Linked DNA regions of Homo sapiens. The protein of the gene in region 2 purifies or fractionates together with the protein of the main gene of each other region. This does not show direct contact. Each region holds a gene or a part of one and is shown on either strand. Other genes may lie near its edges. The genes, in order: PPP6R3, ANKRD44, PPP6C and NOTCH3.

Evidence for each region.
Region 1: the proteins of ANKRD44 (region 2) and PPP6R3 purify together in Homo sapiens (affinity purification with mass spectrometry; 4 studies listed by BioGRID and IntAct, with this or other methods). This does not show direct contact.
Region 3: the proteins of ANKRD44 (region 2) and PPP6C purify together in Homo sapiens (affinity purification with mass spectrometry; 7 studies listed by BioGRID and IntAct, with this or other methods). This does not show direct contact.
Region 4: the proteins of ANKRD44 (region 2) and NOTCH3 purify together in Homo sapiens (affinity purification with mass spectrometry; 4 studies listed by BioGRID and IntAct, with this or other methods). This does not show direct contact.

What each region holds. Positions count from the first base shown.
Region 1 is NC_000011.10:68,463,746-68,470,772, reverse strand, and holds part of PPP6R3 (serine/threonine-protein phosphatase 6 regulatory subunit 3), read right to left. Parts: intron 1-7,027.
Region 2 is NC_000002.12:197,118,776-197,125,802, forward strand, and holds part of ANKRD44 (serine/threonine-protein phosphatase 6 regulatory ankyrin repeat subunit B), read right to left. Parts: intron 6,694-7,027; coding exon 6,606-6,693; intron 4,018-6,605; coding exon 3,875-4,017; intron 2,770-3,874; coding exon 2,557-2,769; intron 1-2,556. UniProt on the Homo sapiens protein: Putative regulatory subunit of protein phosphatase 6 (PP6) that may be involved in the recognition of phosphoprotein substrates.
Region 3 is NC_000009.12:125,151,778-125,158,804, forward strand, and holds part of PPP6C (serine/threonine-protein phosphatase 6 catalytic subunit), read right to left. Parts: intron 6,606-7,027; coding exon 6,464-6,605; intron 2,209-6,463; coding exon 2,129-2,208; intron 1,966-2,128; coding exon 1,756-1,965; intron 1-1,755.
Region 4 is NC_000019.10:15,190,996-15,198,022, forward strand, and holds part of NOTCH3 (neurogenic locus notch homolog protein 3 precursor), read right to left. Parts: intron 6,584-7,027; coding exon 6,505-6,583; intron 1,525-6,504; coding exon 1,382-1,524; intron 1,304-1,381; coding exon 965-1,303; intron 873-964; coding exon 750-872; intron 663-749; coding exon 429-662; intron 1-428. UniProt on the Homo sapiens protein: Functions as a receptor for membrane-bound ligands Jagged1, Jagged2 and Delta1 to regulate cell-fate determination.

The DNA.
Region 1 (7,027 bases), on a different chromosome or scaffold from region 2:
CACACCCACTCCAATCTGCCAGCAAATCCTGTCTGCTCTTCCTTTTCAAGAAGGATCCAGCAGCCAACCTCTTCTCACTCCCACCCCTGCTCCCCTTCAGTCCCAGCTGCCATTACTGCTCTCCTGGATCACTGCCAGAGCGTCCAACCTCCCTCCAGCAGCACAGGACAGTGGGACCTTTAGAAACCACATCATGTGACACCTCTGCTCAAAACACCAAATGACTTACCCATCTCACTCAGAGAAAAAGACAAAATCTTAACAATGGCCAGTGTGACCTACGCCCTCCCCCCATCTCCCCCATCCATCTGGCCTACCCTCCTCCCACTCTCCCTCAGGCTCCTCACTCCAGCCACACTGGCCTCCGCTGCCCCTCCAACACAGCAGACATGCCTCCTTCTTAGCACCTTGTCCTGCTGACCCTCCGCCTATAATGCTGCCCCTACCCCACTGCCACCCACAGCCTTGTGGCTGGGTCCCTCCACTCCTTCTGTTGACTGCTGTATTTCAATCTGCAGACAAGCACTCCCCCACACCCCACCTCTCCTGGTTTACTTTTCTCCCTGTTTGTATTACCATATGGCTACTGTATCTTTCATTTATCTGTTAACTGTCTTTCCCCTACCAAAATGTAAGCTCCATGAAAACAAGGACTTTTCATCTGCTTTGCTTACTGTTAACATGCCCAGCAGTAGAACAGTGTTTAAGACATGGTAAGTACTCAAACATCTGAATAAAAGGATCACAGAAACAATGTTGAGTGGGGGCAAAAAAAGAACAAAGTGACTCCATTTACATTGTCTAAAGGAATGCAAAAATGAAGTCACATTATATAAGGATACATTTATACTTTGCAACACCATAAAGTAAAGCAGAAAAATGATACATACAAGGTATTTGCCTTGGGGAGGTCAGAAAGAGGGAAGTGGTGAGACGAGGACACAGGGAGCCAAAGGTATGGCAACCTTCTATTTCCTAAGCTGGTTAGTGGGTACACAAGTGTCAGTTCTAATGTTTAATATCTGGGCACATGCTGATATATACTCTTTGAATTCATAGTCCAATTACAAGTTAAAATAAAAAAACAGATTAGAGGCCAGGCATGGTAGTTCACACCTGTTATCTCAGCACTTTGGGAAAACAAGGTGGGAGGACTGCTTGAGCCCAGGAGTTCAAGACCAGCCTGGGCAACATCGGAAGATCTTGTCTCTACAAGAAAAAAAAAAAAAAAATTACCTGGGTGTAGTAGCATGTGCCTACAGTCCCAGCTACTCGGGAGGCTGAGGTGAGAGAATCGTTTCAGCCAGGGAGGTCAGTCAAGGCTGCAGTGAGCTATACTGCACTCCAGCCTGGGACTCTATCTCAAAAAAATAAACAAAAACCACTGCACTCTAGCCTGGGATTACACCACTGCACTCCAGATTACACCACTGCACTCTAGCCTGGGACTCTATCTCAAAAAGATAAACAAAGACAAAACAGATTAGAGCAGGCATTGACAAACTACAACCCACAGGCCAAATCCAACTCTCTGTCTGCTTTTATAAGTAAAGTCCTATTGGAAGACAGCCACCTTCATTTGTTTACAGATTGGCTATGGCTGCTTTCACACTACAAAAGCAGAGATGAGTCCTTGCAGAGACCATTTAGCCTCCAATGCCTAAAATATTTACTAACTGGTCCTTTACAGAAAAAATCTGCAAACCCTCAATAGAGCTGTCTGGTTATAATGCAGAATTTGTAAAGAAATTAAGTGCAAAATCAAAAAGATCCAATCATCTGTTAACATATATTGATCCTTCAAGGCGTATGTGATTATCCACACTATGTTGAAAAAATGATTCTATATAAAATGTGAGACTCCACAGCAAAGTTACCCTACAACGTCCTGTGTGCCAGAAAAGAATAAACTTAAAAGATGTTTTAGAAAGCAAACTGCAAACCTCAAATTTATGATCTCTACTCCACCAGCAGAAATTATGTTATATATGTTCTAATGTTATATTCATATTCACAGTTATATACATTAAAACATATATAACATACTCCAAATTTGGAGGAAGAAAATTTGCATATCAACACTAACTCTGTAACCTCCCCAACACTGAAACCACCATCACCCTGACTTCCGCAGAGCAGCTGGTTAGACCTCGAGGCCTCTCTATGATCCTATAATACTCCATTTCTCTCCTTGAGATCATTCACTGCACCTTGGAGGTGTTTCTGTACTTTTGTTACAAAATACCATACCTATGATGGGAGGATCTCATAGCTGCTGAGTCCATCTAAGGGTGTAATAACAAGAAGTCCACAGTGAAAAGGGACAGTCATTCACAGAGTGTTGTTTACTCAGAAGGGGCAGGGTCTCACTTGCAGACAAAAGAGACAGATGAGACCTGTCCATTGTCCAAAGGCAATACAAACCCTGTGTATCTCTATGTCAACAAAAAAGAACTCCTCAACTACTATACAGTGACAAAAAACTGACACATACTACTACCAAAAATAAAATTCCAGACGTTAACCACTTATTCTGAATTCTAAGTAAAATCCAGCTGTGATGTCACTCTTGAAACAAATAGCACTTAAAACTGTGGTCTGGAACATCACAATCCTATGGAATCACCGGGGCTGAGATTTCTCTGCTCCTTCTGGTTCCATTCTTCTGCATGGCCTCCATTTTTCTGTAAGAATAAATGCGCTGGGCGTGGTGGCTCATGCCTGTAATTTCAACACTTTGGGAGGCCAAGACGGGCGGATCACTAGAGGTCAGGAGTTTGAGACCAGCCTGGCCAACATGGTGAAACTCCATCTCTACTAAAAATAAAAAATTAGCTGGGTGTGATGGCACACGCCTGTAGTCCCAGCTACTCGGGAGGCTGAGGCAGGAGAATCGCTTCAACCTGTAAGGCGGAGGTTGCAGTGAGCCGAGATCGCGCCACTACACTCCAGCCTGGGCGACAGACTGAGAGTCCATCTCAAAAAAATAAATAAATAGAAAATAAATGACGTCTAAGTGTTGTTGCAGCCCAAAACCATGATTCTCACGAATGGAAGCCTCAGTCAATTGTCAAGACTAGTCAGTGTTCCTCCCGCTACGCCCATCTGAGGACCAAAGCCCAACCAATCTGACCAGCCAACCATGGAGCAGGCAGTGTGAACTGCCCTGATTAGGGTCTCAGTGTGACATGTGTTCTCAGGCAAGCTCTTTTTTCTCAAAGTGTGTCTCTGCCACCAGAATTTTTGTTCAGATTTACATGTAGGTATAGGAAACCCAAGGCTCCAACTAACAGTCCCACACAGCTTTCTCCAAGTCTGTCTGACTCAACATCAGTCTGCAGCCGTTTTAGTCCTGCTCTCTAATGTTCCTAAAAACAATCTTTCATTCATCTTTTCTTGGGCCATCAGATTTCACGGTAGTCAATCTCTGGGGAATTCAAATCACTTCAAGTCACTATGTATTTCCACTGTAAGAAATTCTGGAACTAATAATCCCGTGGTTTTCCCCAGAGTTACTGTGAAGTACAAAATCAGAGCCTCCTTATATCTGTAAAAAGATGTTCAGAACCTATCGAACTTTAATTGCATAAGTTCAGTCAACTGTATAGTCTTCACTAATGCATCTAAAACAGGTCAACTCTAGCCAGCCGTAAGTGACAATTAGTAAATAGCCTCTACTCAGGGTAAAGCCAGCTCTTTGCCCAGTCTGTGACATGACAATGTCCTAGCTAGGGCCGGGTGCAGCGGCTCACGCCTGTAATCCCAGCACTTTGGGAGGCCAAGGCGGGCGGCTCACTAAGAGATCGAGACCATCCTGGCTAACACGGTGAAACCCCGTCTCTACTAAAAATACAAAAAATGGCCAGGCGCGGTGGCTCACGCCTGTAATCCCAGCACTTTGGGAGGCCAAGGCGGGCGGATCACAAGGTCAGGAGATGGAGACCATCCTGGCTAACACGGAGAAACCCCATCTCTATAAAAATACAAAAAAAATTAGCCGGGCGTGGTGGCAGGCACCTGTAGTCCCAGCTACTCGGGAGGCTGAGGCAGGAGAATGGTGTGAACCTGGGAGGCGGAGCTTGCAGTGAGCCGAGATAGCGCCACTGCACTCCAGCCCGGGCGACAGTGTGAGACTCCGTCTCAAAATAAATAAATAAATACAAAAAATTAGCCGGGCATGGTGGCCGGCCCCTGTAGTCCCAGCTACTGGGGAGGCTGAGGCAGGAGAATGGCGTGAACCCGGGAGGCAGAGCTGGCAGTGAGCCGAGACCACGCCACTGCACTCCAGCCTGGGTGACAGAGCGAGACTCCGTCTCAACAAAAAAAAAAAAAAAAAAAAGAAAATGTCCTAGCTAGGCATAGAGATAAGATACCTTTCCACATACTGTCAAATGCCCTTTTACTTGCTTCTTTACCACGTAGCCAACCTACCTGGTATCCAAATGTCAGTCTGTAATCTTTCAATACCTGAAATAAACTGAGTATTGATCTAACTAGCAACTATCTCCCTCCTCATAAAACTAAAGGGGGTGAGAAGTAGGAAAGGGGGCTTCCATGACAAATAAATCTAAGCCAAAGTCAAAAGGCCAAAACAAAATCTCCAGTCAACCTAGATCCATAATGCAGCAGGAGAAACACCCCCTCCCACTTGAAGTAGCATCTATTTCAAGAATGCCGGAAACATTTTGCAAAAACCTACAGCAAGCTTCGGACGGGTCTGGAACCAGAGAGTCAGTGTCTGAGGTTTGGTCAAAGGATAACTGTTGTGTAGGGAGCTATAAACAGCTATCTGTCATTACAAAACGGCTTCAGTATGGGAAGAATGGCACTGCTTTTTAAGACTCCTCAAACTAAGGAGGCAAGTCGAAGTAATCATTTCTTATAAATGAGTAACAAAGTGTAACTATCTTATTCTTTTGCAAAACTTCTGGCAATCTCAACCACCCAAAGTTTAAACAAATCAACCAACTGACCAGCAAACAGAAGCTCTTTCCTCCCAGGCCCCATTGACACCATGTACAATTCTTAACAGCTTTGTCGTCTCTTGTTTGCCTCTTCCTCTAGACTGCAGGTCCTTAAGGGCCTGTTCATCAGTGAATCCCTAATACAGTTCCTAGCAGAGTAAGGACTCAATTAATGTATTTGCTGATGAAATAAATGGATATTAGAAGTAGATGGTGGTCACTGGTAGTTCTCAACATAGGCACAGGCCGAATTTCAGGATGAAGAATAAGAAAATGCCTCCATGACCTTTTGTAACTTCAGATATTAACATTTAGCTGCTAAAAATTTATAGTTTTCCTAATATTCTTCCATTCCATAAACTAGATAATCTAAATTTTAATATGAGCAAAAAAGATCTACCCTTCTCTCTACCACTGCATCTCATCTCCCCAGGAGAAAAGAACACTTCTCTGCTGGGATCAGAGTCTAGGGCACAGAAGAGTCCAACTTACCAGTGGGCAGGATCACTGTGTTAAAGGCTGAGCATACTGTATGCCTATCTGTGCCCTCAATGGGCAGAACTGGTAAACTGATCCAGGGCTAATTCTCTGGGAATAGGTCTTTATTAAAACAAAAACAAAAACAAAAAACAGGCATGGTGGCTCACGCCTGTAATCCCAGCACTTTGGGAGGCCGAGGCGGGCGGATCACTTGAGGTCAGGAGATCGGGACCAGCCTGGCCCACATGGTGAAACCCCATCTCTACTAAAAATACAAAAATGAGCCAGGTGTGGTGGCACGCACCTGTAATCCTAGCTACTCAGGAGGCTAAGGCAGGAGAATCACTTGAACCCAGGAGGCGGAGGTTGCAGTGAGCCAAGATCATGCCACTGCACTCCAGCCTGGGTGACATAGTGAGACTGTCTCCGAAAAAAAAAAAAAAAAGTTGAAGCTGGCATCTAAAACCAGACCTGACCACTGACTGACAAAAGGAGGGCAAAAGATACTAACTCAAAAATTACAGTAGTGTAAGATTATTCAGCACAGAAGCAAACTCTAAATATCTAAGAATTTTGCTTAGTTTCAGCACAGTATGGTAATGTATTTTCATGAGGTTAAGAAAAAAAAGTCCTAAGATATTTTATAAAATCAATTAACAAATGCTTCTAAAGTTCAGTCTTCAGGCATCTGAAAAATGGTTAAGTATACCATCTAAATAATCCCCACTACTAAATAATCTCCAAGGCAGGATCTAGGTACTGCAAAGACCAAGTTCACAGATCACCGAAAGGAACCCTTAACTCACAAACAGTCCCTAAACCTGTGGTGTAAAACAGTGGTTCCAAAATTCAGCTGCATTTCAGTATTGTCTGAGAAGCTTCTAAAAAATAGATTCTCGTGGCCGGGCATGGTAGCTCACACCTGTAATCCCAGCACTTTGGGAGGCCGAGGCGGGTAGATCACGAGGTCAGGAGTTCAAGACCACCCTGGCCAAGATGTGAAACTCCATCTCTACTAAAAATACAAAAAACAGCCGGGCATGGTGGCGGGTGCCTGTAATCCCCGCCACTAGGGAGGCTGAGGCAGAGAACTGCTTGAACCCAGGAGGCAGAGGTTGCAGTGAGCCGAGATGGCACCACCACACTCCAGCCTGGGCGACAGAGCTAGACTCATCTCAAAAAAAATTAATAAGATTCTCAATCCCACCATTTCCAGAGGTGGAGTCCAACATCCATGGTCTTAAAAAATTTCTAATTATTCTAATGCAGGCTTATTCTAATGTAGGCCAGTCTCACATCTATCTAAGTGCAGGATTTCTCAACCTCAGCAGTGTTGCTATTTGGGACTGGATACTTTTGCTGGCGGGCAGGGAGGAGGCTATGCTGGACACTGTAGGATGTTTAGCAGTATCCTTGGCCTCTACCCTCCAGAAGCACACTGCCCACTCCCAGAGGTGTAACAAGCAAAAATATGTCCAGACACTGCCAAATGTTTCCTGGGGGGTGAGGGGGGAACCACCCCCAACTGAGAACTCTTGAACTAGAGTAAATCAAAAGACAATCATTTGAAGTTAAGAAAGGAA
Region 2 (7,027 bases):
ACATAACCATAACATTTTAGCATTAAAAAAGAGATCATATTTCTTTATTGCATTTCAATGTTTTCATTGATAATACTAGGTGTTATTAGCCATTTTGATATTTGCCGTTCTTTAACACAAATGTACGTTTTTGTATTAGTTTGTATTTTTCTAATTACCAGTAATACTAGTTTTTCACAGGCTTAATGTATTTTTTATTCTCTCTTGTGATCTGACTTTTGCTCCATGTTTTCTAGTAATGATCACTTTTTCTTATTGATTTGTATGAGCTCTTTTTATATCAAGCATATTAACTATTTGCTTATCATGTATATTGAAGAAAATTTTCCCTAAGTTGCTCTTATTTTAATTTCATGTTAGAGGTTTTATTGTTGTTGTTTTGTTTTATAAATGTTTAAGACTTTTTTGTAGTCATATATATGATTATTTTCCTTTTTTTTTCCTGCCTTTGGTGTTCTGTGACCGGATTACTGTTTTTAATGCTCAGGTCTGATCATATGACCCCTAGAATGATTCGTGGCCTGCAGAGCCTGGAGAGGCCCAAGCTCCTTGGGCTCAAAATCATCCAGTAGATGAGTCCTCTTCCTTGGTCAAATCACATTTCAGCTCATTTCTGGCTCCTTTCTGTCATACAATTAAAAATAAAAAAGCTTTTTACAGACAGGATCTCACTAGGTTGCTCAGGCTGATCTTAAACTCCTGGGCTCAAGGAATCCTACACCTCAGGCTCCCAAGGAGCTGGGATTACAGGCCGAGCCACCACACTTGGCATGTTCATAAAATTATACTCTATTTGATACAATCAATTGCTATTCTGAAAATTTGTCACATCTTTCACCACTATTAGAAATTGTGAAAAAATATAAGATTTTAATAGTGAATAGAGAAGGTTATTAAAATAGACTGATGTGATATTCTTGAAATTACACCTTAGAAATCATTTTTCAAAACCAGAGACAGAATACACTGGGACCTTGCTTCAGGATCCCTGTGTGCTGGGAAGAAGGGAAGCCTGGGTTGAATAAAAGGTCTCCTAGCACAGCTAAGGATATTCTGCTACAATCTAAATGCATTCAAGTGATGTCGCCCAAATTATGAATGCTGCGTGATAAGCTCCCCTTGGTTAGCTGTCACATGGCAAGCTGACAAGTTACCTAGAGGTTTTCCTATCCAGAATTCCCACCCCTCTTTGCTCATGCTGTTCTATCTGGAACACTCTCTCTCAAATTATCTCTATCCCTCCTCAACTCAACTACATTAATCTTCCAAGTCTCCCCTCAAAATCGATCTCCATTTTTTATTCCCAAGCAAAAAACAAGTCAACAATTGCTTCTTAGAGTTTGCAATGCTTTATGACTCTTCTCATCATATCTTCTCTTGCTCATGATTACCTGAGTGCATGCTACCTCCCTACTACACTGTAAGTTCCTTAAAGGCAGAGACTGAATCTCATCTTAGAGCACTCTTTCAGTACCAAACAGAGGGCACTGGGTAGTCCTTAGTAAATTTGCTGAATAAAGGAATGATTGTGATGACCAGCTCAGTGCTACATCACTGAAGCCACTATCTGGGGTTTGCTTTAAGAAGGTATTGGCTGGGCACAGTGGCTCACACCTGTAATCCCAGCACTTTGGGAGGCTGAGGCAGGTGGATCACTTGAGGCCAAGAGTTTGAGACCAGCCTGGCCAACATGGTGAAACACCATCTCTACTAATAATACAAAAAATTAGCTGGGCATGGTGGTGCATGTCTGTAATCCCAGCTACTGGGGAGGCTGAGGCAGGAGAATCGCTTGAACCTGGGAGGCAGAGGTTGCAGTAAGCTGAGATCACGCCATTGCATTCCAGCCTGGGTGACAAGAGCAAAACTCCATCTCAAAAAAAAAAAGAAAGAAAAGAAAGAAGGTATCTGAGAAGCTCTAAACCCACACTGGAGTTGGAAACAGGCCTACAATCATTATTAGGCCTTCCTTTGAATTCTTAGCAACACTGCCCTATCAGCTCAACATTCACCTCAGTATTAGCTTCTGGGCAAGTCAATATCCTAGAGATCCAGTATTTGTCCTGACACATTCACTAAGCTAACAAGAACACACGGCTGGAGCCTTGGTACCTTTCAGCTGATACCACCACTCCTGAAGAAAAATAACACAACTTTTTTTTTTTTGTTTTTGAGACGGAGTCTTGCTCTGTTGCCCAGGTTAGAGTGCAGTTGCACAATCTCAGCTCACTGCAACCTCTGTCTCCCGGGTTTAAGCAATTCTCTGCCTCAGCCTCCCGAGTAGCTGAGATTGCAGGCACCCGCCACCACGCCTGGCTAATTTTTGCATTTTTAGTAGAGATGGTGTTTCACCATCTTCGTCAGGCTGGTCTTGAACTCCTAACCTCATGATCTACCTGCCTCAGCCTCCAGACAACTTTTCTTATAGCCTCCAAATCCAGGACAAGGCTGTGAGGTTCCAACTCACTAAAACATGGCATAATTTGCAGCAGTTGATTTTGCTCAAACAGAAGCTCAATGCAAAGGCATTCAACACAGAGACTAAGAGTGTCATACCTGAATGTTAACATCTGCCCCGTTGTTTACTAACAATTCAAGACACAAAGCACCATGAGTGGAGGCAGCAGCAAAATGCAAAGGGGTGAACCCATTATTGTTTGGCTGGTTCACGTTAGCACCGTAGTCAATCAACTCGTTAACCACAGCATCCTGTCCATTGTAGCAGGCGATGTGAAGCGCTGTATTTCCATAGACATTGATTTCATCAATCTGCAAAAGAGTCCAACACAGGGTGATTAAAGTCATTAGAGCCAGTTTACTCCATTTTCCACAAAAAGCATAACGGCTGTGGCTAGAGAAAGGAAATAGCCATCCGCCAATATAATTGTTCAGAGCTTACTCTTGCCCCAGTGTGGTCATCTTGGGAATGCTTGTCACCCCATGGTAAAGATCAGCAAAAAGTCAATGTGGCAAAAAATGAACTGGAGACAGAGAAGTTTCATCCTGGGGAGAGGTATTTTTCAGCTAACAAAGGAATAAAAGGTGAAGGGCAAAGCTGCTTTCAAAACACCAAAAGAGAAGTAAATCAGAGGAGAATGAAAAGAGTCCCACACTCTAGGATTGGGGCACAGAAAACCTCAAGAAATGGTGGGGGATGGCAGAGGAAGTGGCTGCGGAGATGGCAGGGGAGGTGGCTGTGGAGTCTAAACATGGAAGGCGGGTCAGAATCCACTCTCTGTTTTGCTCTGGAGTCCGACACCTCACCAGGTTGCATTTTAGTAGCAGAGCAGTGGTGCCGTCAGGAGGTGTGTTTCGTCCACGGCTCCCTATTGCTTTCTGAGACCTGCCCTGGATGCCTGGTTTCCTCATTATGGTTTTCCATAATGATGCAACTTGGTTTTCCTTTCTTGGGGGACAGGATGTTCCAGCCTCACCACTGCTCCTGTTCTACCAGCAGAAAGAGAAGGCAGCAGTCTGCCTTTTCCAGCTCAAGAGTAGACATTGCTGCTGTTTGTCTCTGCCATTTATTCATTCATTTCTGCTGTAAGTCATGACTTAGAAGGCTACATTTGGAAGGTGGGATGCAGAACCTTGGCCAGTCTTTAAGAACAACTGGTTAATATATATTACATAGAATCTTTATGTCTATATATTTATCTATGTTGATATAGAAAGTTATTCAGTTTCCAGTTTTCCTCTGCTTAGTGTATGCCCCCACTGCCCTTCATCAGTTGCCCACAAAAACTCAAAAAGACAGGATGCTAGAAAACAATTCCCCTGCCCTTGAATTAAAGTGCAAACAGGATTTAACTTTAGAATAACAGAAATCTTACAAATACACTGGCCATGCATTGATGCATTCATCATAGCTCACCTCCACCCCCAGGTTCAGGAGATGCTTGACAACATTAATCTGTCCATTGGAGGCTGCAGCATGCAGAGGGGTATAACCCTTCTTATCCTTACAGGTCACTTCTGCGCCATGGTTAATGAGCAATGCTACAACATCCAAGTGGCCTTTACAAACAAAGCAGCAGAAAACATCGTTAACCTTTATAGGACAATTTGCTGATTCATTTCACCTAAATTATCAACTATTAGCTTTCATCGCCACCAGTATTTTGCTGAGTTATTTGTAAAAAGCTGGTTCATGGCAACTATTCAACAAATATTTATTGAGTACCTCCTATAGTCAGGCATAATGTAAAAGCTGTGGGGAGAAAAAAGATGATTCATATGTGAGCCTTCTCTTCAAGGAGATCTAGGTGATGCTTGTTACCACACTAATGAATAATGGTGAGGTTTTGCCAAGATATTAGTAGAGAGCCTTTAAAAATGTTGTATTAAAATGAAAGCAATGCTTTTGAAAACAATTGCCATTCCTCACTGAAAAGTTTAACAATGACAATTCAGTTAGGAAAAACTGATAAAAGAAAAAAAAACAATTAATGAGAATGACCCCAGATTATTGTTTAATCATATAAAATTACTGCTGCTCAACTGTATTTGGACCCACAAAAATGGCAATTACATATGCCTCAACTTAAAAGTATCCTCATGAATTAGAGGCCAAACAGAAAACCCTTCTAGTTTTAGCTCCTGTTAGCATTTTTTTCTACAATATTTTACTCTGTTCCATAATTCACTATATATAGAATAAGCCTGTACAACATGGTGAAACCCCATCTCTACTAAAAATACAAAACTTAGTTGGGCATGGTGGCACATGCCTGTAGTCCCAGCTGCTCAGGAGGCTGAGGCATGAGAATCACTTGAACCTGGGAGGCAGAGGCTGCAGTGAGCCGACATCACACCACTGCACTCCTGCCTGGGCAACAGAGCGAGACCTTGTCTCAAAAAATAAATAAATAAATAAACAAAGAAACAAGCATATTTGACCTTTATTTCGGGACTGAAGATTGTTCAATGCTTCAGGATCATTGCTCTAAATATGGCTGAAAATTGAAGGGTAGAAGACAAGTACTGACTCCAGGACTTTGTGTGTGTGTTGGGGTGGGGGGAAAGTATTGGCTTGTTTTATTAAAATTTGACTCTTTTCTCTCCAAGACTTTATATAGAAAAAATTTTTTTCGATTATTAGTGCTGCTATCTTAAGCTATTTGCCCTGGTTTTGCCTATTATTCCTATTTGTATCCTGACAGCACACAAAACAATGATTTGATTTCTTTAGAGTCATTTATCCAAATGCTTTAACTGTATATACATCAGCAGAGAGCAATCGTGAAACTTTGCATTCTTTGAGTCCTATCCACACTAGCTTAGTGTGTGTTCGGCCTACACAGCTGTCTCCCACAGTCACTGGCTCCAGTCCTGCAGGTGCCACGCAGTCATTTCATATGCTTCAGCCAACTCAAAAATCCATGTCAACTTTTTTTTTTAAATGCTAATGCTTGTAAAAGTTTAAGATTCTGTTTTTTTAAGCCCAAGGATTCACTCAGACCCACCTTTAGCCACATAATTTATTTCATCCCTGCCCCAACCTACTCTTTCTCCCTACAATTAATGTTAATTTTTAAAGTGATGATAAAAGGCACATATGCTTGTTAAAAAGGATTCAGAAAGGCAAAAAGGTATTAAAAGAAAACCAAAATCATCCACAATCATAAATCCCCAAAGACAATCAATTAAAATTTTAGCATATAATATTTTCCAAGTTTGTTATTGTACAGATTTTTCAATGAAAATGAGAATTATATTATTTATACTGTTTTATAATATGCTTTCATTTAACATATCACAGACTCTGTGTTAATAAACACTCATGGACTCATCACTGTAGTTACTGCAAAGTGTCCCCTTGTGTGGATCTTCCAGAATTTACCAAAACAATCTCCTGTGGATGGGCATTCAGGTTGTTTACAACTTGGTGCTGATAGAATCCTGTCTATTTTTCTAATGGCAGGATGTTCTCCAATTAGAAACACAAAGGGAATATCTTAGTTCTTCATTTCCCACAAGTCTACACTTAGAATAAACTCTGTGAGATCTCTCATTTGTCAGTGGGATTTGCCAACAAAAGTGAAAAGGAAAAACGTAGAAATGTGAACTCTCCCAAGCGGGTAGAAATGAGGGCTGCAGGCTTCAGTTTTGTCGTCAGTGGACTATCAGGATAATCACCAGCGCCTCTGGTGCCCTCCATCTATAAAATAGCCAGAGGTTTGTCTTTTCTTCCTTTCTTTTTGTTTCTTTCAAAAATATTTATAAATTTAAAAAGACGAATGGAATTTGTGTCCTTGCTTTCCGAGCCAGTGCTCTTTCTTTTTAAAACACCTTATTTTACTGCCATGACAAGTTAAAATAAGCACAATCTGTGCAGCTTTCCAATCCAGACTGAAGCACATTCAAAGAGGCCCAAGCCATGATTCATTCCTCCTCTTCTTTGTAGGATAAATAAATATCTGACAAAGCAACTGCCCGACTGGAGTGCACTATGCATGCCAGTAAAACCAACCAAATCTTCATTCAATTGCAACCCAAGCTTGAAAAGAAGTCAGACTGGAGAAAACCTACATGGTCAATGAGAGACCCATGGCTTATTTAGTTAAGGTTATCTGTACTTTGCTTTCCATGCATGGAATCCTTACCCATGTATGCTGCCCAGTGCAGAGCACGCCGGTCCTTCTTGTCAAATGCATTGATATTTGCCCCTTTGGCCAAGAGTAAATTGACCATCTGAAAGATAACCAACAATGAAATCAAGCATACATTCTGTAATGGTGAGGCCTCCTCACTGCCTGCAGATGATCTGAGCCAAATTAACATGAAATCTAAAGGCAGGTCAGAGATCTGGAGTTCTGACAAAGTAGAAATATGATGTCAGAGCAGGACATGTGTCATGTGTGTCAGAGGAAAAGACTGAAGTGACAGCCTACTTTTTCAATTCATTGTGGCTCTAAAGTTGAGAATGATATAGATGCTGAAGGTTTGGTGTACAAATATTTTCATCACATTCTTTAAAATCTCAGCAAGAAGATCAGTTTCCACTTGTGGCTGAAAGTCCTGGAGG
Region 3 (7,027 bases), on a different chromosome or scaffold from region 2:
TATCTGCATTGTCTCATTCTGGCTTCCTTGATGATTCTGTGAGCCTTGCAGCTTTAACTATAGCTCAGCTGTTACAAGATTTCAGACTTTTGAGGATGTTGTGTGGGGGTGTTTGACTGTGACTGGAGAAGCTCAGACTACTCTGCATGTGAATGCTTCAGGGTTTTCTTTGTTGAGAACAACCAGCAGCAAAGCCAACCCATGTGTGAGCAGTTCTCCCCAAGGTCTATGCTAAATTATGGCAAGAGCCCTGGGCAACCCCAAACCTAGTCCCGGTGGCTGAGCACCCTGTAAGGCAGGAGTAGGCAGTTGGGCTTGAGCAGCCATGGGGTAGGGGGTGGGGGGTGGTTGAGGGGGGAGGCAGCACAGCGCAGCAAATGTTTCTTGGGAGGAAGAAGCCTGATCCATCATCATCTGCTTGACTATGTAGCTTGGATTCTCTTTTGTACCTACTCCTTTGATTTGGCTTTACCTTCATCCATCTTGATCCTTTCCTGGCCAAAGATCCTCTTGGGCCCAAATGAACACTGTACCGTAGTCTTCTGGAAAGCAAATGTGCTTCCTGCTATGTAATCGCTAACATTCACATTACATGATTTGCTGTAGCTTGATCTTCCTTAGCCTACTACCACTGTGGCAGTAGGTTTTAGGTGGTATCATAGTGCCTTTTGATTAATTTAAGTATTTAATTTTCATCTTCTTTCTTTGGATCTATTTGGCTTTTCAAATGAACAGAGATTTCTGTTAAAAAGAAAAAAAAGATTTGACGTAGGCTGGGCGCGGTGGCTCACGCCTGTAATCCCAGCACCTTGGGAGACCAAGGTGGGCAGATGACCTGAGGTCAGGAGTTCAAGACCAGCCTCACCAACATGGTGAAACCCCGTCTCTACTAAAAATACAAAATTAGCCAGGCGTGGTGGTGTACACCTGTAATCCCAGCTACTCGGGAGGCTGAGACAGGAGAATCGCTTGAATCCAGGAGGCAGAGGTTGCAGTGAGCCGAGATTGCACCATTGTACTCCAGCCTGGGCAACATGAGCGAAACTCTTGTCTCAAAAAAAAAAAGATTCATGTTATTGTCTCTTGTAGAGGAAACTAATAAAGTGTCTGTATCTGTGTGATTTGAGGTCTTTGAGAAAAAAAAAAAAAAGTATTGCCTATCTTGGTCTTGCCATTTTGTTACTTAACTACAGTACTTGAAAGGAAAGGGGCTGGCCGGGTGCGGTGGCTCACACCTATAATCCCAGCACTTTGGGAGGCTGAGGCGGGTGGATCACCTGAGGTCAGGAGTTCAAGACCAGCCTAGCCAACACGGTGAAATCCCATCTCTACTAAGAATACAAAAATTAGCCAGGCATGGTGGCGCACACCTGTGGTCCCAGCTACTCAGGAGGCTGAGGCAGGAGAATGGCTTGAACCTGGGAGGCAGAGGTTGTTGCAGTGAGCCAAGATCACGCCACTGCACTCCAGCCTAGGCGACAGAGCAAGACTCCATCTCAAAAACAAAAAAAAAAGGAAAGAACATTTACTTTATACATTATTACCAAATGGATGCTGGAGTAGGTGCTTTCACTGTGTCATCTTATTTAACCATTAAAGAAAGACATACGTTAATAACTAAACTAGAAATTTAATATCCACAGCCACCATATTTTGAGTAAGCTAGACTACAAGTTTGTTATCTAGGGCCACCATAGTTCTCTATGCAGCCCATTAGCAATCCACAAATTACATTTCCAAAAATGTTGGCTTTACCTCATTTGTGACCTTTGCTCCAAAAAGCCAACCTGCTCCTCGGGGACTGATAGCCCAGGTATCCACATCTTCAGGATCTGACCAAACCAGATCACAAAATGCTCCTTTATGAGGAATTTCCTGATTCCGTTCGATGGTTCGAATTTGATCCAGTGTTTTGATATCAGGAGATAAACCACCATGGACACACAAAATCTGCTCATCTATTAACTAGCAAAAAAGGATAACAAAGAGTTGAACATATAACCTCAGGCATATCTAAACTCATCAGTGAATACTAAAGATATCAATATAATTGAGATGACAACTAGATAAAAATATGCAATGTGTTATTGGCAGGAACGTACATGAGACTTTAAAAATAGAAACTTACAGCTGCTACTGTGAGCATGTCAAAAACTTTGGTACAGTATCTCCAGGCATTAGCATTTCCATATTTGGTTTGGCACTCATCTGTGAAAGAAACAGAAGGGTTTTAATTAATGAATCTGCTAATAAAAATAAACAATATATCCAATACTAGAGCAGCCTTCAGTACAACAGAAATTCAGCTTAAACTAGGATAGCAAGATATGACACATATTTAGTCCTGCTAGGACCTCCACATAGAGCCAAAAGAACGCTAGTGACTAACTACATACAGTTGTATGTCCCTTAACCATGGGGATACATTCTAAAAAATGCATTGTTAGGTGATTTCATCGTTGTGTGAACATCATCGGATGTCCTTACATAAACCTAGATGGTCTAGCCTACTACACACCTAGGCAATATGATATAGCCTATTGCTCATAGGCTATAAATTTGTGCAGCATGTAACTGTACTAAATATCATAAGGAAATAGTAACACAATGGTAAGTATTTGTGCAATAGGAATTTTTCAGCTCCGTTTTATCTATGGGACCACTGTCATATATACAGTCCATCATCGACTGAAATGTCATTATGTGGCACATGACTGTATTTCCTAAGGATGTAGTACTGCTCTTCATTCCTGGAATGGACCTAAGAAGCAGCTGAAATTATTAGCCAAAATGCTATCATTAGAAGAGTTAAATACTAATTTCACACAACCTGAAGCAAATGTTTTAACAGTTATGTTAATATTAGGCAATTCTGGTAAGCAGATAAATTTATTTAAGGAGACAATTCTAGCAGGATAAACAGATCAAACAAATTAGAGGATCCTTAGTTATAGGAGCATGAGCAATTCCTAACTCTTCTCAGGGCTAAGTTGTCTCTTCTGAGATTTTCTGCAAATCGTGCGACTAAACACTTGAGCTTCAGTGGATCAAAACTGAGGACAGATTGCCAATCAGGTTCTTACAAATTCTCAGTTGAACACTCTTTCTGCTGCCTACGTAGTTTTTTGTTTTTGAGACAAGGTCTCACTCTATTGCCCAAGTTGGAATACAGTGGCACAATCAGCAGTGGCGCGATCACAGCTCACTGCAACCTCAACCACTTGGGTTCAAGCGATCCCACCACCTCAGCCTTCTGAACAGCTGGAACTACAGGCAAGTGCCACCACACCTGGCTAATTTTATTTCTGGTAGAGATGGGGATCTCCCTATGTTGTCCAGGCTGGTCTTGAACTCCTGAGCTCAAGCAATCCTCCTACCTCAGCCTCCCACAGTGCTGAGAATACAGATGTGAGCCACTGTACCCTGACTGTCTACATAGTTAATAGGGTACACACTTCTTTTGTTAACACCATGGAAGCTCTGTACTTTGGCTTCTTCCATAATTTTAGAAAAAAAAAAACCTGACATATCACTATTGCCTTAAGTGAAGCTGAAAATGATATAGGAAAGAAGTCTGCAGGTTATGACCAATCCCCAAGATTTTCTCAATTATATATCTACGTGAAGCAAGATTGTTATGTAAACTTGCCATAAGAGAGCCCTAACAATGAGCTCAGGTTGCAGGCAGGGATCTTGAACTTGGCTCAATAGTAACTGCCCAGTATGTGTTTATCAGTGTGAACTGAAGTCCCAGTGTAAAGTCATATAGGGATATTTTATTCCTTGAAAATCAATATAAGTCCTATAATAACTAAAATTATCTTATTCAAAACATATGTCATATGGCTGGACGCAGTGCCTCATGCCTGTAATCCCAGCACTTTGGGAGGCCGAGGCGGGCGGATCACAAGGTCAGGAGATTGAGACCATCCTGGCTAACACGGTGAAACCCTGTCTCTACTAAAAAATACAAAAAAATTAGCCGGGCATGGTGGCGGGCGCCTGTAGTCCCAGCTACTTGGGAGGCGGAGGCAGGAGAATGGCGTGAACCCAGTAGGCAGAGCTTGCAGTGAGCGAAGATCGCACCACTGCACTCCAGCCTGGGTGACAGAGCGAGACTCCGTCTCAAAAAAAAAAAAAAAAAAAAGTCATATATTAGCCATATATAACAATATGTATTTTATATATTATACATGTAGCATTAGTTACATATATATAGTAGGTGTGTGTGTTTTTATAACATTAGTTTTAGTACTGTTTTCACTGAGCTAATATCATAGTATGTTATCCAAAATATTGATTATTTTGCAAAAGAATCCAAAAGTTGTATTTCAATTGGTGTTTATTTTGTGAATGAAAATAAAAAGTCACCTGTAGAAAGGAGATAAATATTACCTAACTTTACACGTATTAAAAAAATTATATAAAAACAATAAATTCTCAAAATTTCTCTAATTGATAATGGCAGACAAACTGAAGAGTAAGAGAGTTCAGATTATCTTTGCTTTGTTTCGTTTTGAGACAGCCTCACTGTCATCCAGGCTGGAGTGCAATGGTGCAATCTCGGCTCACTGCAACCTCCACCTCCCGGGTTCAAGGGATTCTCCTGCCTCAGCCTCCCGAATAGCTGGGACTACAGGCAAGTGCCACCATGCCCAGCTAATTTTTGTATTTTAAGTAGAGACGGGGTTTCACCATGTTGGCCAAGATGGTCTCGATCTCCTGACCTTGTGATCTGCCTGCCTCAGCCTCCCAAAGTACTGGGATTACAGGCATGAGCCACCACACCTGGCCCAGCCTATCTTTATAATGAAAGAAGATAATTCAAAATATAAAATTTAAATCTAAAGGGTTCTGCAATTAATGTTTCCAAATCTCTCAATATCTGTCTTAATTGTGCTCAAGGAAAATCCAAATTCATAATCTTGACAGTTCTATTTCCCTGAAGGGGCTTCCTAATAAGCTCGCTCTCTCTCTCTCTCTCTCTCTCTCTCTCTCTTTCAACCAAATAAAAGTTTTAAAGAATTAGCTAGTTTGCTTTTTTTCCTTTCTTGAGACAGAGTCTGGCTCAGTTGCCCAGGCTGGAGTGGAATGGAGCGATCTTGGCTCACTGCAACCTCCACCTCCTGGGTTCAATCAATTCTCCCTGCCTCAGTCTCCTGAGTAGCTGGGATTACAGGCCCCCACCACCATGCCCGGCTAAATTTTTTTTATTATTAAACTTTAAGTTCTAGGGTACATGTGCACAACGTGTCGGTCTTTTACATATGTATACATGTGTCATGTTGGTGTGCTGCACCCATTAACTCGTCATTTACATTAGGTATGTCTCCTAACGCTATCCCTCCCCCCTCCCCCTACCAGTGCCCGGCTAATTTTTGTATTTTTAGTAGAGACAGGGTTTAGTTGGCCAGGCTGGTCTCGAACTCCTGACCTCAGGTGATCCGCCCGCCTCGGCCTCCCAAAGTGCTGGGATTACAGGGGTGAGCCACTGCGCCTGGCCTATTTTGCTGTTTATGACTAAGTTCTGCTTCTGATCCCTGAGGTCCTAGCATTCTCTGGAGTGAGCATACAGAGATATATGTAAAAGGATGTATAACAGCAGCTTAAAAACAACTCTAAAGTCCAACGATAGAGGAAAAACTGATACATCAATTATGCTACATCCATATGGTATATGAAGCAGCCATGAAAATAACATTAATAAAGTGAAAAAATCAGGTATGTCCCCATTTTAGTGTGCACGTGTTTGTACATATATAAACACACATAAACACACACACACACATACAAAATGGATGAGAATGGACTCTCAAATTTGTGCAGAACATTCACCTTCAGCAGATTCTAGATTCCCACTCCAAAATATTTTGATTAATAAATCTGTGGTGAGGCCCAGCATTCTCCTTTTTTTTTTGGTTTTTTTTTTTTTGAGACGGAGTCTCCCTATGTCGCCAGGCTGGAGTGCTGTGGCATGATCTCGGCTCACCACAAACTCTGACTCCTTGGTTCAAGCAATTCTCCTGCCTCAGCCTCCCGAGTAACTGGGATTACATGCACACACCACCACGCTCAGCTCATTTTTGTATTTTTAGAAGAGAAGGGGTTTCACCATATTGGTCAGGATGGTCTCGATCTCCTGATCTTGTGATCCGCCTGCCTCAGCCTCCCAAAGTGCTGAGATTACAGGTGTGAGCCACCCCACCCGGCCGGCAATCTACATTTTTAATGAGAACCCAGGTGATTCCAGCTACACTTTGAGGCACAGATCTAGAAAGATGCACACCAAAAAGTTAACAGTGGTCTTCTCTCGAGCATAAGATTTTCAATTGTTTGGGAGGAGTGAAGGAGTGAGGATGTGGGGAAAATAATATACATAAAGCATGTGTATGACTTGTGTAGCTTTGTTTTCCAAAGAGGAAAGTAAAATAATATTCAGAATCAGAGAAATAGGAATTCTTACCATAAAATCCATAGACCTGTGTTATCTGTCTACTCTCATGATTTCCTCGCAAAAGTGTAATACGATCAGGCCATTTAGCCTTTAATGCAAGAAGGTAAGTGAAGGTCTCCAAACTATAGTAACCTCTGTCTACAAAATCACCCTGTGAAGTAAAAGTTTACAGTTACAAACAATACAATAGCCACAATATTCTTTTCAAATTATATCAAACTGTACAAACATATAGTTTATAACTACAATAAAGAGTTACATACTGAATTATTTGGAAATTTGATTTTAACAAAAAAATAAAATACACGTAAACAAATTTTTTCTATTAAATGTTTATACAAACAAGATTTTTGATTCCAGGGAAATCTACAAGAATCTGCTGTGCCATTCTCTCAAAAACTTTCCCTGAAAAAAAAAACCACCATTTTTTTTTCTTTTTTTTCTTTTTTTGAGACAGTATCACTCTGTCACCCAGGCTGGAGTGCAGTGGCACAATCTCGGTTCACTGCAACCTCCGCCTCCCGGGTTCAAGCGATTCTCTTGCCTCAGACTCCTGAGTAGCTGGGATTACAG
Region 4 (7,027 bases), on a different chromosome or scaffold from region 2:
CAGGCATGAGCCACTGTGCCCGGCCTAGCATAATCTTTTTTTTATTTTTTAAATTTGAGAAGGAGTCTCACTCTGTCACCCAGGCTAGAGTGCAGTGGTGCAATCTTGGCTCACTGCAATCTCCACCTCCTGGGTTCAAGCTACTCTCGTGCCTTAGCCTCCTGAGAGACTTGGATTACAGGTGTGCACCACCACGCGCAGCTAATTTTTGTGTTTTTAGTAGAGATGGGGTTTCACCATATTGACCAGGCTGGTCTCAAACTCCTGACCCCAGTGATCCGCCCGCCTGGGCCTCCCAAAGTGCTATGATTACAGGCATGAGCCACTGTGCCCAGCCTAGCATAATCTTTCTAACACTCAAGTCAGACTTCTTATTTGCCCTCACTAAAAACCATCCATGGCTCCCTGCAGAGAAAACGGCCACTCACCAGTCTTGCCCATGGGGCAGGCACAGTAGAAAGAAGCCACGCGGTCATGGCAGGTGGCCCCATGGAAGCACACGGCTGTGGCACAGTCATCGATATTCTGACTGCAGCTCTCGCCTGTCCAGCCATTGACACACACGCAGCTGTGGCCACCCAGCGTGTTGAAGCAGGTACCCCCATTGTGGCAGGCGTTGGGCTGCAGCTGACACTCATCCACGTCCTCCGTGCAGAACTGGCCTGTGGCACACAGATGCAGCAGTCCAGCCACCTGGCGCATGTCCACCCGAGGCCTGCCTCCCCGCTCCCTCTGGCCGCAGTGCCCACCTGTCCACTCAGGAGGGCACTGGCAGTTATAGGTGTTGACGCCATCCACGCATGTCCCCCCATTGAGACATCGGTGTCCTGGACAGTCGTCCACGTTCACTTCACAATTCTGACCCTCAAACCCTAGCAGGGAAGGGGGCAAGGATGGTCACCGCCGGGCTGGCCTGCTGTCCCCACGCCCACCCCTCTGACTCTCCTGAGTAGGGCTCACTCACCAGGAAGACAGGCACAGTCGTAAGTGAGGTCGCCACTCTGCCTGCAGGTGCCCCCGTTACGGCATGGTGAGGGTGCACAGGGCACCGCGGGGTTCTCACATAGTGGCCCTGTGTAGCCAGCTGGACACTGGCAGCGGAAGGAGCCAGGTGTGTTGAGGCAGGTGCCACCATGGCGGCAGGGCTCACCCACCCGGCACTCATCCACGTCGCTTCGGCAGCTGCGGCCCTGGTAGCCAGGTGGGCAGGAGCAGAGGAAGCGTCCATCGGGCCCCACTGAGCAGCGGGCACCGTGGGCACAAGGGCTGCTGAGGCAGGGATCTGGCAGGGAGCAGTCAGGGCCTGGAGGGACCAGGACAGGGTGAGTTTAGGACTGACCACACCCCCGACTACCTCCCCTCCAGACTCTTCCCCTCTCACCTCGGAAGCCACGGGGGCACCGGCATGAGAATCGGGCGGTGCCAGCCACCACTGAACTCTGGCAGACACCACGGCCAGCACAGGGGCCTGAGTGACAGGGGTCCTCCAGCTGACACCGCTCACCCACCCAGCCAGGCGGGCACCTGTGGGCAGAGATGGCTTGGTTGGGCAGCACAGGGCAGGATGGCCCCAGACACAAAGATACACACAAGACAGGCAAGAAACACGCAGGGAAACAGAGCAGCAAACACACATTTGCTGGGAGCAGTGGCTCACGCCTGTAATCCCAGAACTTTGGGAGGCTGCGGCGGGCAGATCACTTGGGGTCAGGAGTTCAAGACCAGCCTAGCCAACATGGTGTAACCCCGTCTCTACTAAAAGTACGAAACTTTGCTGGGCATAGTGGTGCGTGCCTGTAGTCCCAGCTACTCAAGAGGCTGAGGCAGGAGAATTGCTTGAACTCGGGAGGTGGAGGTTGCAGTGAGCCAAGATCGCGCCACTGCACTGCAGCCTGGGTGACAGAGTAAGACTCGGTCTCAAAGAAACAAAACAAAACAAAACACACATTCATTCATGCAACGAATATTTACTGAGTACCTACTACGTTCTGAGCAATACAAATACAGCAACAAACACAATGAAAGGGGTCCCTATCCCTCTGGATCCTTGCAGCCAGGTCCAGGCAAGGAGAACATATACGAATAACAAATTAATATACAACATGCTGGCAGGGGGCGGTGAAAGCCATCAGAACCATGAAGGATGTAGTCAGTTGGGTCACAGCCCCTGAAAAGATGACATCCATGTCCCAGAACCTGTGACTAGGACCTTACTTTTTTTTTAAATGGCTCTTTGCAGATGTAATTTTTTTTTTTTAAGAGACGGAGTCTTGCTCTGTCACCCAGGCTGCAGTGCAGTGGCGCGATCTTGGCTCACTGCAACCTCCACCTCCCGGGGTTCAAGCAATTCTTTGTCTCAGCCTCCTGCGTAGCTGGGAGTACAGGCACACGCCACCAGGCCTGGCTATGCAGATGTAATTAAATGAGAGATGTCAAGATGAGATTATTCTGAATTATCCACCTGGGCCCTAAATTCAGTGACAAGTGTTCATACAAGAGAACGGCTCACAACTGTAATCCCAACACTTTGGGAGGTCAAGACAGGATAATCACTTCAAGCCAGAAGTTCAAGATCAGCTTGAGCAACATAGGGAGACTTTTTTTCCACAAAAAAAAATTAAAAATTATAACCGGGCATGGTGGCAGGAGCCTGTAATCCCAGCTACTCTGGAGGCTGAGGCAGGAGAATCGCTTGAACCCAGGAGGCGGAGGTTGCAGTGAGCCGAAATTGCACCACTGCACTCCAGCCTGGTTGACAGAGGGAGACTCCATCTCAAAAAAAAACAAAAAACAAAAAAAACAAACAGGCCAGGCGCAGTGGCTCATGCCTGTAATCCCAGCACTCTGGGAGACTGAGGTGGGCGGATCACGAGGTCAGGAGTTCAAGACCAGCCTGGCCAATATGGTGAAACCTCGTCGCTACTAAAAATACAAAAATTAGCTGGGCGTGGTGGTGCACTCGTGTAGTCCCCGCTACTCAGGAGGCTGAGACAGAAGAATTGCTTGAACCTGGGAGGCGGAGGTTGCAGTAAGCCGAGATCGTGCCACTGCACTCCAGCCTGGGTGACAGAGAGAGACTCCACCTAAAAAATAAAAATAAAAGATTAGCTGGCCGTGGTGGCTCACACCTGTAGTCCCAGCTTCTTGGGAGGCTGAGGTGGGAGGATCGCTTCAGCCTGGGAGTTGAAGGCTGCAGTGAACTAAGATTGCACCACTGCACTCCAGCCTGGGTGACAGAGCAAGACTCTGTCTCAAAAAAAGAGAGAGGCAGCCAAAAGGAGATTTGGGTGGGAGAAGGAAGAGAAGAAGACAGAGACAGGGACTGGAGTGAGACAGCCACTAGCTGAGAAACGTCTGGAGCCACCAGAAGCTGCAAGAGTCAGTTCTCCCCTGGGTCCCCATGGAGAGGCTCAGCCCTGCCGATATCTTGATTTCAGACTTCCAACCTCCAGAACTTCAAGAGAATAAATTACTATTGTTCAAGCTACCCAGTTTATGGTAATTTGTTAGAGCAGCCGTAGGAAGCTAAACCACAGGGTTAAGGGGGATAGAATGATGGGGTCAAGGAGGTGGAATTCTATTTTCACAGACATATGAAGGTAAGGAGGGGGCCATGGGGCTTTCTGGGGAACGGCATTCCAGGCAGAGGGAACAGCAAATGAAAAGTCTCAGACCCATGTCCAAGCGCGGTGGCTCACGCCTGTAATCCCAACACTTTGGGAGACCGAGGCAGGTAGATCACCTGACATCAAGAGTTCGAGACCAGCCTGACCAACATGAAGAAACTCCGTCTCTACTAAAAACACAAAAAATCAGCCAAGTGTGGTGGCACATGCCTGTAATCCCAGCTACTCCGGAGGCTGAGGCAGGAAAATCGCTTGAACCCAGGAGATAGAGGCTGCAGTGAGCCAAGATCGAGCCACTGCACTCCAGCCTGGGCAACAAGAGCGATACTCGATCTCAAAAAAAAAAAAAAAAAGGAAAAGGAAAAAAAGAAGTCTCAGACCCCAGGACACAACCACGCAGGCACACACAGACAGGCCCAGAAACCACAGCTACACACACAGAGGGACACACCAATTGGACGCCATGGCCTGGCCAGCACTCAAGACACCAACCCACAGCATCCCACGCGGAAATGAGCAACTCTCACTCACAGGGACAGACAGCAGGGCTCCCACAAACCCTCAAGTCCCTTCTCTGGGACTTATATAGCCTCTTATGCAGGGATGGGAGGGTGGAGGGTTGGGGTACTGACACCACTGTTGGTACCCTCATCTTGGGGGGGTGGTCCTTCAACCTGCAGCCCCCTCCCCAAGCCCACCAAGGAGTGTGAGGAATTGGAACTGGGAGGGGTTGGTCTTAAGACTGGAAATCTCCAAGGGGCACTAGCGGGGTCAGAGGGAGGGGCTTAGAGAAGCCAGAGAGTCCAAGCTCCGCCCCCCGACGCTGCCAACCCTCACCCCCCTCTATCCCCCCACCCTCCGCCCCTGGCGCGGTTGTCCTCCCTCCGGCTTGTCCCAGACGCCTGAGACTGAACTCAACAAGCGGCTGACTCAGTCCTTAGCGTCACCCGCAAGATCCCCCCCACCCCGGCCCCCAGCGAAACAGGTCGGGGCACGGCCGAGCAAGCAAGGGTGCGGGTGGCGTTGGGAGGGGAGGGCACAGCTCCCGTCCCCTCCTCCAAGGCCCGCAGGGCGACCACTGCGGCCCCGACCGCGCGTCGGGAGGGGGCGCGCTGCGCTGGGCGCCGAGGATAGCTGGTCCCACCGCCAGGCAGGGCGCGACCCGCGCGGGCCCCCTCCCGACGCCCCGGGCGGGTTCCCACGCTCTGCGTCCCGCGCCCCCGCCGACCGGTCGGGCCGGTTCCAGCCCCAGCCCGCGCCCCGCCCCACGGCCTAAGCTTTGGGGGAGACGGAGGGGGGAGCGCAGACCTAGTTAGGGGGGGCACGGCGGGTGAGGCGAGGACTAGGAGATGGGGACGAGGTCTATGGAAACGTCTGCTGCCGGTGGGGGGGTCTTGGGGGATCCATGGGTGGGGTGACAGCTTGGGGGCATCCTTGAAAGGACTTGAGTATTTGAGACCGTGAAAGAGACTCGTGGGGGGTGGAGGGCGTGTAGGGAGTGGTTCCCACAGCCCAACTCGGAGGACTGAGCCCGCTCCACTCCGGGCGATCCGGGCTCCGGGCGCCGCGCGCGCCGGTGATTCACCTGTCGAAGGGCGGGGCAGCCGCGGGCTCATTCACCTGTCGGCAGTATTCCAGGCGCGGAGCTCCACTGCGCAGGCGCCCGGCCCCACCGCTCGCCCTCCCAGGTGTGTGGCTCCAGGTAAGGTCACACTTTTCCCCATCCCGCCCCACCTTCGCAGACCCCCCAGCCCCAGGAAACCCTCTCAGTCAGGCTCAGCCCTCCACAAAGGTGAGCCCGAGTGGGAGATCCAGCCAAAATAAATGTAGGTGTAACTTCAAAGCGGCTCTTCTTGGTCTAAAATCACCCCAGACCCACCCAGCTTGGGCCTGACCCAGTACTTGGCACACATGATGCTGAATAAATGAATACATTAATGAGTCAATCAATGGCTACTGCGTGAACTGCTGTTATTAATGATAGCATGAAAGGAGCCAAGCATTTCCTCATAACCTTGAGAGACTTCTCCTTAGAGCACCTGTTTCCTGCCTCCCTACCATTATTATTTATAATAATGCCTATGTTGAGCACATACTATATTCTGAGCACTTAATGTATGTTGAGTGCATACAGGAGTTATTATTGCCCCATTTTCCAGATGCAAAAACTGAGGCTCAAAAAGCTTGAATGCTCAAGGTGTCCCAGACCCCAGAATTTAAGCTGAGCTCTTTCTGTCTCTGCTCAGCTCCTTCCCAGCCTCTGCTCTGCTCCCTGCAACCTCTTGCCTTTCCTTGTGATATCTAACAACTAAATTGTTAAGTCCCTTCACAGTCGCCAGTGAAGCATTCCCTATTTCACAGGTGCAATGATGATCAGAGAGGGAAAGTGACTAGCCCAAAGTCACACTGCAAGTAAGTGGCAGTGTGGGACTGTATTATAGGCCTCCTATGTCCCCCTCCACTAAATGTTGAGAGATGGGAGGGGTGTGGAGGGTGTGAGCCACTGCGATTGGTCCCTGATAGTTTGTTGATTGAATAATACCTACCTCATGGGGGGCTTTACATGTGACCTCAGGTGGCCAAGAACTGTGAAGCTGGGATTACTGGGCCCATTTTGCAGACCATGACACTGAGATGTAAAGAGTTTAATTCCTAGCCGGTCAGCAACATGATGTGGGACTTGAACCCATGCCAAGAAGAGTGCAGAGCCCCTGCTCAGTTTCCAATGGGGAAACACGAGAGGTTGCCCAAGCCACACACATGTAGGAAGTGGTAGAGACATCCATGGTGAACACAGAGGCAGAGGGAGAAGACAAATCGCCCCTCCCCCCCGCCCCCACACACAGGGCCCACTGGTGGCTCTGAGCCAGGCACTCACAGGCAGGCAGCCTCCCGGGAGGGCAGCTGGGTGCAACGACCTCCATTTGCACACGGGCTTCCGTCCAGGCAAGGGGGGGCTGTGTGGGGGTGAAGGAAGGTGGAGGATCAGCCAGGTGCCCAGGAACCCCAGGCCCAAGTGACAAACCCCCTCCCTCCCTCCACCAGGCAACAGCTGCATGGGGATGGGGGCGTCTCTGCGGGTGCAGGGAGTCCCCCCATCCACAGTTCCCACGCCCCCCCCCCCCCCGCCCCAGCCCCAGCTGTTGAGGCTGCAGCTGTCCCTGCCAGCTCGAGCCCTGGGAACCACAAAGCAGGGGAAGGCAGGAGGAGGGGCTGTCTTATGCCAGATGTGGGGGCTCGGGAAGCTGCCAGAGCTAAGATGTGCAGAATGGGGTGTGCTGAGACAGGAAGTAAGGGTGCTGAGTGTTACAGGGAGGTCTGGGGCTTCATGCCCAGGTTCAGGGGTAATAGAAGGGGAAGGGGCAGGGGATCCTAGGGCCACGGGTCTTCCTTTCCCTGAT